Linked DNA regions of Homo sapiens. The protein of the gene in region 1 purifies or fractionates together with the protein of each later gene. This does not show direct contact. Each region holds a gene or a part of one and is shown in the gene's direction. Other genes may lie near its edges. The genes, in order: NCAN, LIG1 and MNAT1.

Evidence for each region.
Region 2: the proteins of NCAN (region 1) and LIG1 fractionate together in Homo sapiens (co-fractionation; one large-scale study listed by BioGRID). This does not show direct contact.
Region 3: the proteins of NCAN (region 1) and MNAT1 fractionate together in Homo sapiens (co-fractionation; one large-scale study listed by BioGRID). This does not show direct contact.

Annotation. Positions count from the first base shown.
Region 1 is NC_000019.10:19,242,870-19,246,520, forward strand, and holds part of NCAN (neurocan core protein precursor), read left to right. Parts: intron 1-2,443; coding exon 2,444-2,588; intron 2,589-3,651. UniProt on the Homo sapiens protein: May modulate neuronal adhesion and neurite growth during development by binding to neural cell adhesion molecules (NG-CAM and N-CAM). Chondroitin sulfate proteoglycan; binds to hyaluronic acid.
Region 2 is NC_000019.10:48,114,857-48,118,407, reverse strand, and holds the end of LIG1 (DNA ligase 1), read left to right. Parts: intron 1-626; coding exon 627-770; intron 771-2,442; coding exon 2,443-2,535; intron 2,536-2,675; coding exon 2,676-2,759; 3' UTR 2,760-2,963; downstream 2,964-3,551.
Region 3 is NC_000014.9:60,741,139-60,744,789, forward strand, and holds part of MNAT1 (CDK-activating kinase assembly factor MAT1), read left to right. Parts: intron 1-3,651.

The DNA of each region.
Region 1 (3,651 bases):
CATGCCTGCAATCCCAGCACTTTTGGAGGCCAAGGTGGGTGGATTGCTTGAGTTGTGGAGTTTGAGACCAGCCTGGGCAACATGGCGAAACCCCATCTCTACAAAAAATTCAAAAATTGAGACAGAGCGAGACTCCGGCTCAAAAATAAAATAAAATAAAATAATAAACAAAATGTGGAATGAGCCAGGCATAGAAGGCCAGCTGTTGTATGATTTTTTTTTTTCATGAAGCATTCAGAGTAGGCAAATTTAGAGACAGGAAGTAGATTAGTGTTTGCCAGGGGCTGGGGTCGGGAGAAGGGGGAGTCACTAGTGCTCAATGAGTACAGAATTTTGGTGTGTTGTGATGAAAAAGTTCTGGAAATAGGCTGTGCGGGGTGGCTCAGGCCTGTAATCCCAACACTTTGGGAGGCTGAGGTGGATGGATCACAAGGTCAGGAGTTCAAGACCAGCCTGACCAATATGGTAAAACCCTGTGTCTACTAAAAATACAAAAATTAGCCAGGCGTGGTGGCGTGCACGTGTAATCCCAGCTACTCAGGAGGTTGGGGCAGGAGAATCGCTTGAACCTGGGAGGCGGAGGTTGCAGTGAGCCAAGATCATGCCACTGCACTCCAGCCTGGGCGACAGAGAGAGACTCCATCTCAAAAAAAAAAAAAAAAAAAGAAAAAGAAAAAGTTCTGGAAATAACAATGATGGTTATGCAACATTGTGAATGTAATTAGTGCATTAAACTGCACACCGCCTCTTGAACCCGGGAGGCGGAGGTTGCAGCGAGCCAAGGTAGCACCACTGCAATCCAGCCTGGATAATAGAGACTCTGTCTCAACAAAATAAAAATAACAATAAACTGCACACGTAAAAATGGTTAAAATTGGCCAGGTGCGGTGGCTCACGCCTGTAATCCCAGCACTTTGGGAGGCCAAGGTGGGTGGATCGCGAGGTCAGGAGTTCAAGACCAGCCTGGCCAACATGGTGAAACCCCATCTCTACTGAAAATACAAAAATTAGCTGGGCATGGTGGCGCATGCCTGTAATCCCAGCTACTCAGGAGGCTGGGGCAGGAGAATTGCTTGAACCGGGACCTGGGAGGCGGAGGTAGCAGTGAGCGAGATCGCACCACTACACTCCAGCCTGGGCTCTGTCTCAAACAAAACAAAACAAAACAAAACAAAAATGGTTAAAATTAGGAATTATGTGCTATATATATTTTGCGCTATATATATTTTGCCACAATTTTTAAAAATTCACTTCCTTTTCTCTGATGCAAGATCTGGTCCCTCTCTACTCTCTGAGCACACCCCAGCCCCATCACGCAGCTCCAGCCCCACTGGGCTTTGTCTGTTCCTCAAGCAGAACAAGTTCAGTCCTGCCTCTGAGCCTTCACACTGGTGGTTCCCTTTGCTAGGAATGCTGTTCCCTGTCTGAACCCTTACTATCTTTTTTTTTTTTTTTTTGAGATAGAATCTCACTCCATCACCCGGGCTGGAGTTCAGTGATGCAACCCAGCTCACTGCAACCTCTGCCTCCCAGGCTCAAGGGATTCTCCTGCTTCAGCATCCCGAGTATCTTGGGACTACAGGCGCGCACCATCATGCCCGGCTAATTTTTGTATTTTTATGAGAGACAGGGTTTCACCTTGTTGTCCAAGGTGGTCCCAAACTCCTGACCTCAAGTGATCTGACCCCCTTGGCCTCTCAAAGTGCTGGGATTACAGGCATGAGCCACTGAGCCCGGCCTTGAATCCTTACTATCTTTGATTCTTTAACTCTCACATTGCCTCCTCAGGGAAGTCCTCCTGGACTTCGGGCTGAGATCACCATTTGTCCCACCATGTATCTTTTTTCTTTTTCTTTTCCTTTTTTTTTTTTTTTTTGAGGCAGAGTCTCGGTCTTGTCACCCAGGCTGGAGTACAATAGCGCAATCTCGGCTCACTGCAACCTCTGCCTCCCGGGTTCAAACAATTCTCCTGCTGGGATTACAGGCTCCCACTACCATGCCTGGCTAATTTTTTGTATTTTTAGTGGTGATGGGGTTTCACCATATTGACCAGGCTGGTCTTGAACTCCTGACCTCAGGTGATCCGCCCACCTCGGCCTCCCAGAGTGCTGGGATTACAGGCATGAGCCACCAGGCCTGGCCTTGTCCCACCACTTATCTAACACTGATTCATGTTGAAAATGAACTGGGTGCGGCCGGGCACCCAGGGAGGCAGGAGGACCAGGGAGGAGAATGCTGCAGCCTCCAAACCAGAGGAATGGTGTATTGGATTACAGTGGTGGCCCCCGTCAGGATGGGCAGGACAGTGGCCATTGTAGAGATGGGAACACTGAATCCCTGTGAGTTTGAGGGGTCTGGCCAGGGGAGTCCCACAGCAGGAATTGCCAGAACCTGGGCTGGAACAGAGGTCCCCTGAACAACTCCCTGCCCCCTATTCCTGCAGCAATTTGAGAACTGGCGAGAGAACCAGCCGGACAATTTCTTCGCGGGTGGCGAGGACTGTGTGGTGATGGTGGCGCATGAAAGCGGGCGCTGGAACGATGTCCCCTGCAACTACAACCTACCCTATGTCTGCAAGAAGGGCACAGGTATGCTGTGCCCCCTGCTTCTTTTCCTCTCTGTCACTTTTGCTCACTGGTTCTCTGTTGCCCAGGCTGGAGTGCAGTGGCATAATCATGGCTCATCACAGCCTCCACCGCCTGGGTTCAAGCCATCCTCCTGCCTCAGCTTCCCGAGTAGGTGGGACTATAGGCATGCACCAACATGCCCAGCTAATTTTTGTATTTTTTGTAGAGATGGGGTCTTGCCATGTTGCCCAGGCTGGTCCCGAACTCCTGGGCTCAAGCGATCTGCCTGTCTCAGCCTCTCGAAGTGCTGGGATTATATGCATAAGCCATTGTGCCCAGCCTTGATTCATTTTTTTTTTTCATGAAGCATTCAGAGTACACAAATTTAGAGACAAGAAGTAGATTAGTATTTGCCAGGGGCTAGGGTTTGGGAGAAGGGGGAGTCACTAGTGCTTAATGGGTATAGAATTTTGGTGTGTTGTGATGAAAAAGTTCTGGAAATAGGCCGCTCGGGGTGGCTCATGCCTGTAATCCCAACACTTTGGGAGGCCAAGGTGGGTGGGATTATATTTTATTTTTTTAATTTATTCTTATTTTGTTTTTACTTATTTATGTTTTTGGAGACAGTTTCGCTCTTGTTGTCCAGGCTGGAGTGCAAAGGCATGCTCTTGGCTCACTTCAACCTCTGCCTCCCATGTTCAAGTGATTCTCCTGCCTCAGCCTCCTGAGTAGCTGGGATTACAGGCGTATGCCACCACGCCCAGCTGGTTTTTATATTATTAGTAGAGACGGGGTTTCACCATGTTGGCCAGGCTGGTCTCGAACTCCTGACCTCAGGTGATCCACCCACCTCGGCCTCCCAAAGGGCAGGGATTACAAGCATGAGCCACTGCACCTCGCCTTCATCTTTTTAAGTTGGTAAATGTCAGTGCAGCCAGTTCTCACTTTCCACCAGCGTATGAGAGTGCTTGTTTCCTCCCACCCTTGCTAACTCTGCACATTCTTAAACTTTTGTTCTTTGTTCATCTAAGTGGGGAAAAATAGTATCTCATTGTTATCTTAGTTTGCATGCCTTTAAGGATGA
Region 2 (3,551 bases), about 29 Mb from region 1:
GCAGGGGAACTGCCCTTTATAAAGCCGTCAGATCTCGTGAGACTTCCTCACTATCACGAGAACAGCACGGGAAAAACCTGCCCCCATCGTTCAGTTACCTCCCACCAGGTCCCTCCACGACACATGGGGATTTTGGGAGCTATGATTCAAGACAAGATGTGGGTGGGGACACACGGACCCTGACACCATCTCTGTCCCACTCTTTGGTTCTCTCTCTCCATTGCCCTCTCTCTCTACATCTCTGTCCCTGTCCCACTGTGTCTCTGTCTCCTTCCTCCAGGTCTCTGGCCCTTTCTCTGCCTCTTTTTGTCTTTAATGTCCTGCCTCAGCCCCCAGGGCCTTTCATTTCTTTCCATCTCCCATTCCTCCCAACTCCCACCTTTCTCAACTTTTTACTTCAAGGGGGTCTTGTTTCTTTTCCCTTCTTTCACTTTCTGTTTCTCTTTCTATTTCTGTTTACTTCAAGGGGGTGTCTTGTTTCTTTTCCCTTATTTCACTTCCTATTTCTGTTTACTTCAAGGGGGTGCCTGTTTTTTTCCCTTCCTCCCTCTCCCCAGCCCTCCAACACTTGGCCTTGACTTTGAGATTCCAGACCCTCTGTTCCTCTCTTCCTCTGCTCACTGCAGGCGCTGGTGCTGCCCAGCCCACGCCCTTACGTGCGGATAGATGGCGCTGTGATTCCCGACCACTGGCTGGACCCCAGCGCTGTGTGGGAGGTGAAGTGCGCTGACCTCTCCCTCTCTCCCATCTACCCTGCTGCGCGGGGCCTGGTGAGTGGCAGAGGACCTGGCCGTGGCCCTGTGTGGGATTCTGGGCGGGCACACAGAGAGCAGAGTAGGGAGGGGACCTTGGCTCACATCTGCTCTTCCAGGTAAGGATCAGGAAGATGAGCTTGCATTTTATTTGAGTGTCAGATAAAAAGATCAAAACATTTTTTCTTTAAAAATGGGCCGGGCATGGGGGCTCGTGCCTGTAATCCCAGCACTTTGGGAGACCGAGGCAGGCAGATCACTTGAGGTCAGGAGTTCAAGGCCAGCCTGGCCAACATGGTGAAACCCCATCTCTACCAAAAATACAAAAATTAGCCATGTGTGATGGCGGGTGCCTGTAGTCCCAGCTACCCAGGAGGCTGAGGCAGGAGAATCGCTTGAACCTGGGAGGCGGAGGTTGCAGTGAGCCGAGATCACACCACTGTACTCCATCCTGGGTGACAAAGCAAGACTCTGTCTCAAAAAAAGAAAAGAAAATTCTTTTCTTAAATAAAAGAATTCCCAGGGCAAGCACAGTGGCTCATGCCTGTAATCCCAGCACTTTGGGAGGCCGAGGCAGGCAGATCACTTGAGGTCAGGAGTTCAAGACCAGCCTGACCAACACGGTGAAACCCCACCTCTACCAAAAAATAGAAAAATTAGCTGGGTATGGTGACCCGTGCCTGTAGAGACGGGGTTTCACCATGTTGACTAGGCTGGTCACAAACACCTGGCCTCAATCCGCCCACCTCGGCCTCCCAAAGTGCTGGGATTACAGGTGTGGGCCACCATGCCCAGCCAAGAACTTACATTTTTGATCTAATTTTTAAAAATGTTTTACCATGCTGCACGTTAGACAGCCAGGGACCCTTAGTAACAAGGCACAGGAGCCGGTGTGTATCCAGCCCTTGCTGTGCAGTGGGCACTGTGTGGTCATCAGCGTGTCACTCATAGACACTCATTTAATCCTCTCAAAATCCGTAAGACGTAGTGACACAAACATCTCCATTTTACGGTGAGGATGTAGAGCCCTAGAGAGCCTGAGTAACTGCCCCTGCATCACGCGGCTCCTGAGAGTTGGGAGCTGGGATTGGAATCCCACAGTCAGATTCTAGAACCCATACCCTGGCGCCGTAGTTCAGCCTCTCAGCCCGAATTACCGTCATTATCGTAACGGCTGTAGCAGGTGGCATTTTTTTTTTTTTTTTTTTGAGTTGGAGTCTCGCTCTGTCACCCAGGCTGGAGTACAGTGGCGCAATCTCAGCTCACTGCAAGCTCCCCACCTCCCGGATTCACGCCATTCTCCTGCCTCAGCTTCCTGAGTAGCTGGGACTACAGGCGCCCGCCACCACACCTGGCTAATTTCTTTTTGTATTTTTAGTAGAGGCGGGGTTTCACCGTGTTAGCCAGGATAGTCTCCATCTCCTGACCTCGTGATCCACCCGCCTCGGCCTCCCAAAGTGCTGGGATTACAGGGGTGAGCCACCGCACCCGGCCAACAGGCAGCATTTCTTGAGCACTTACTGTGCCCGGGTACTGTTCCAAGCACTTTGTCAACTTGTTTAATCCTTATGACAACCCATCGTTCGGCCCCGTCATGTGGATCAGGAAACAGTCCAGAGTGGAGGAGGGAGGAGACTGAGCAGGGGGTCGCTGGGGCTGGACCGCAGGAGTCTCCATCCCGCTTCCGCAGGTGGATAGTGACAAGGGCATCTCCCTTCGCTTCCCTCGGTTTATTCGAGTCCGTGAAGACAAGCAGCCGGAGCAGGCCACCACCAGTGCTCAGGTGAGGTCCTGGGAAGCAGGGGTGGGCCGCCCAGCTGCTTGGCCCTACCAGCTTTTTAGCGTGGTGGCCTCTCTGGAACCTTGTGGAGGTGGGAGCAGCCAGGGAGCTTCTGACCACCCCGTCCCACCCTCTCTCCGCAGGTGGCCTGTTTGTACCGGAAGCAAAGTCAGATTCAGAACCAACAAGGCGAGGACTCAGGCTCTGACCCTGAAGATACCTACTAAGCCCTCGCCCTCCTAGGGCCTGGGTACAGGGCATGAGTTGGACGGACCCCAGGGTTATTATTGCCTTTGCTTTTTAGCAAATCTGCTGTGGCAGGCTGTGGATTTTGAGAGTCAGGGGAGGGGTGTGTGTGTGAGGGGGTGGCTTACTCCGGAGTCTGGGATTCATCCCGTCATTTCTTTCAATAAATAATTATTGGATAGCTACTTTGTGACAGGGTCTGTGCTGGGCTCTGGGGGCAAAGCTGTCATGGGTGTCACCTGCATAGCATGTAGCCATGTAGCCATGGCCTAGGAACTGCCAGAGCCAGTGCCAGCCATGGAACTGCCTGCAGTGGTGGGCGTCTTCTCTATCTGCTCTGTGCAGTGTGACCGCCACTGGCCACCTGCAATGCCCGAGCCCTTGACAGGTGGCCAGCATGACAGAGGATGCGAATTTGTTTTGTTTTGTTTTGTTTTGATTTTGTTTTGAGACAGAGTCTCGCTCTGTTGCCCAGGCTGGAGTGCGATGATGAGATCTCAGCTCACTGCAACCTCCACCTTCCGGGTTCAAGTGATTCTCTTGCCTCAGCCTCCCATGTAGCTGGGATTACAGGAATGTGACACCACGCCTGGCTAATTTTTGTATTTTTAGTAGAGATGGGGTTTCGCCATGTTGGCCAGGCTGATCTTGAACTCTTGGCCTCAAGCGATCCACCCTCCTCAGCCCCCCTAAGTGCTGGGATTACAGGCGTGAGCCACCACACCCAGCCATACCAAATATTTTATTTAATTGTATTGGACAGCAGTAGTCTA
Region 3 (3,651 bases), on another chromosome or scaffold:
TCTGTCTGATAATAATTTGGCACTGTCAGATTTCTTGTGCTTACTATTTGATAGTGTGCATTTTTCCGTTCATTTACTTTAAAAAAATTTTTTAACCCATGTAATATCAGTGGCACAATCATAAACTCCTGGGCTCAAATGATCCTCCTGCCTCATCCTCTTGAGTAGCTAGGACTACAGGTGCATGGCACCACACCTGGCTTATTTATTTATTTATGTATTTATTATTTTTATTTTTTGAGATGGAATCTCGCTCTGTTGCCCAGGCTGGAGTGCAGTGGCGCGATCTCAGCTCACGGCAAGCTCCGCCTCCCAGGTTCACACCATTCTCCTGCCTCAGCCTTCCGAGTAGCTGGGATTACAGGCACGGGCCACCACGTCTGGCTAATTTTTTGTATTTTTAATAGAGACAGGGTTTCACTGTGTTAGCCAGGATGGTCTCGATCTCCTGACCTCGTGATCCTCCTGCCTCGGCCTCCCAAAGTGCTGGGATTACAGGCGTGAGCCACTGCGCCTGGGGTTTTTTTTTTTTTTTTTTTTTTAATTTTTAGTAGAGATGGGGTCTTGCTATGTTTCCCAAGCTGGTCTCAAACGCCTGAGCGCAAGTGATCCTCCTGCCTGGGCCTCCCAAAATGTAGGTATTACAAGAGTGAGCTGCTGTACCTGGCCCCCATCCATTTACTTTCAACCAATTTGTGTCTGTCTCTGGGAGACTCTACTTCACTGGGTCTTGCCATTTTATCTGGATTGACAATCTCTGCCTTTTAATTGGTGTACTAGTCCATTATATCTAATTATTGATATCATTGGGTTTAAGTCTACATGTTTCCTTGTATTCCTTTGGTTTTTTTGTTGTTCTTTTGCTCCTTTCCTGCCTTATTTTGAAATAATTGGATTTTTTAAAGTATTGGCCTATTAGCCGGTAGCTTTTTATTTTTTATTTATTTTTATTTTTTTTTAAATAAGAGACAGGATCTCACTCTATCACCCAGGCTGGAGTGTGGTGGCTTTATCACAGGTCACTGCAACCTTGAACTCAGGGGTTCAAGGGATCCTTCCACTTCAGCCACCCCAGAATTTGGGACTACAGGTGTGCACTGCCACAGCCAGCTAATTTTTAATTTTTTTTTGTAGAGCTAGTCTCTGACTGTGTTGCCCAGGCTGGTCTCAAACTCCTGGCCTCAAGTGATCTACCCACCTCAGCCTCCCAAAGTTCTGGGATTACAGTCACCTTTTATGGCCAACAATTAACTCCTCATTGTTATTATTATTATTAGTGGTTTCTTTCAGCATATCTTTTATTTGTATTTGTGATTTGTTGTTATTTTTGCTTTAAACAGTCAGTTGTCTTTAAGGAAAGGTATGTTTTTAAAAAACTACTTCACTGAATATAATTCACGTACCATAAAATTCACACATTTAAAGTGTACGTTTCAATGGCTTTTAGTATATTCTCAGAGATGTACATATTACCCCACAAAGATACCTCTCACCACTTAGCCGTCACACTCCTCAACTCCCCCCTCCCATAGCACTAGGCAACCAGTTATCTACTTTCTGACTATGTAGATTTTCCTATTCTGGACCTTTCATATAAATGGAATCATACAGTATGTGGTTCTCTGGACTGGCTTCTTTTACATAGTGTAATATTTTCTAGGTTCATCCATGTTGTAGCATGTATGAGTACAACATTTCTTTTTATTGCTGAATATTATTCCATTGTATGGCTATACTACATTTTATCCATTCATCAGTTGAAGAACATTTGAGTCATTTCTACTTTTTGGCTGTTATGAATAATGCTGCTGTGAACATTCATGTACAAGTTTTCGTATGGACAAATGTTTTTGTTTCTCTCATGTATATATTTAGGAGTAGAATTATTGGATCATATGGTAACTCTTTGTTTAGTTTGTTTTCCAATGTGGCTGTACCATCTTATAGCAGTGAATGAGGGCTCTAGTCTCTCTATGTAGTTGCCAATGCTTGTTATAGTTGTCTTTTGATTATAGCCATTCTAGTGGGTATGAAGTGGTGAAATATAGTCTCTTATTTTCACCTATTTACTATCTTTGATATTGCCCTTCTTCCTTTGGATCTGATTTTATAGTCATATTGATTTCCATCTGCCTAAAGAACATTCTTTAGCATTTCTTTTTTTTTTTGAGACGGAGTCTTGCTCTGTCGCCCAGGCTGGAGTACAATGGCACAATCTCGGCTCACTGCAGCCTCCGCCTCCCAGGTTCAAGCGATTCTCCTGCCTCAGCCTCTTGAGTAACTGGGATTACAGGTGTGTGCCACCATGCCCGGCTAATTTTTGTATTTTCAGTAGAGATGGAGTTTCACCATGTTGGCCAGGCTGGCCTTGAACTCCTGACCTCAGGTGATTCGCCTGCCTCAGCCTCTCAAAGTGCTGAGATTACAGGCGTGAGCCACTGCGCCCAGCTCCTTAGCATTTCTTATAGTGTAGGTGTGTTGGTGAAGAATATACTCTGATTTTGTTTATAAGAAAGTGTTTTTATTTCACCCTAGTGTTTGAAGGATATTTTTGCTGAATATAGAATTATGGGTTGGCATTTCTTTGACCATACAAAAGATATCATTTCATTGTTCTCTAGTGTTTCTGTTGAGAAGTTAATTTTACTCATATCTCTTTCTCCCTGTTCTTTAGATTATATATTTTCTATTGATCTATCTTCAGGTTCACTGTTGCCTGTCTGCCATTTCTAATCTCATCCAATAGATTTTTCATTTCTTATTGTATTGTTTTGGTCGTAGAGTTTTCATTTTTATCTTTTTTATAGTTTTCATTTCTCTGATATTTCCCATCTATATACTCATCAAGAATATATTTTTCTTTAGTTCTTTGAATGCATTTTCCTTTAATTTTTTGAACATATTTTCCATTAATTCCTTTAAAATATTTATGATAGTCAATCTTAAGGTTTCTGTCTGTAAGAGTTAACTCCTTGGCTATCTCAGGGTTGGTTTCTTTTTTGTTTGTGTTTTTGAGAGAGCCTCACTCTGTTGCCCATGCTGGAGTGCAGTGGCATGATCTTGGCTCACTGCAACCTCCACCTCTTAGGTTCAAGTGATTCTCCTGCATCAGCCTCCCAAGTAGCTGGGATTACAGGTGCCTGCTACCATGCCTGGCTAATTTTTGTATTTTTAGTAGAGATGGGGTTTTGCCCTGTTGGCCAGGCTGGTCCCAAGCTCTTGACCTCAAGTGATCTGCGTGCCTCGGCCTCCCAAAGTGCGGGGATTACAGGTGTGAGCCATCACGCCCAGCCATCTCAGGGTTGGTTTCTATTGACTGCTTTTATTTGACTGTAGGTTACAGTTTTCTGCTTATTTATTTTTGCATGTTTACTACTTTTTAATTGTAGGTGGTATATTATAGAGATTCTGGATTTTGTATTTTTGTGAAAAGTGTTGATTTTAAAAATTCTTGCAGGTAGTTCAGTTACTGGCAGATAACTTTGAACTTGTGTAGGCTTGGTTTTACTCTTTGCTAGAATGATATGTGGAGAACCCATTGTTTCCTTACTTTAGTGTAACTCAACCTCACATTTTTAATCCCTTCAAAAACTTGTTGGGGCTTGATTTTAGTCTTTGTTAGGGTGCACCTAGAATATGCCTTATTCTAGG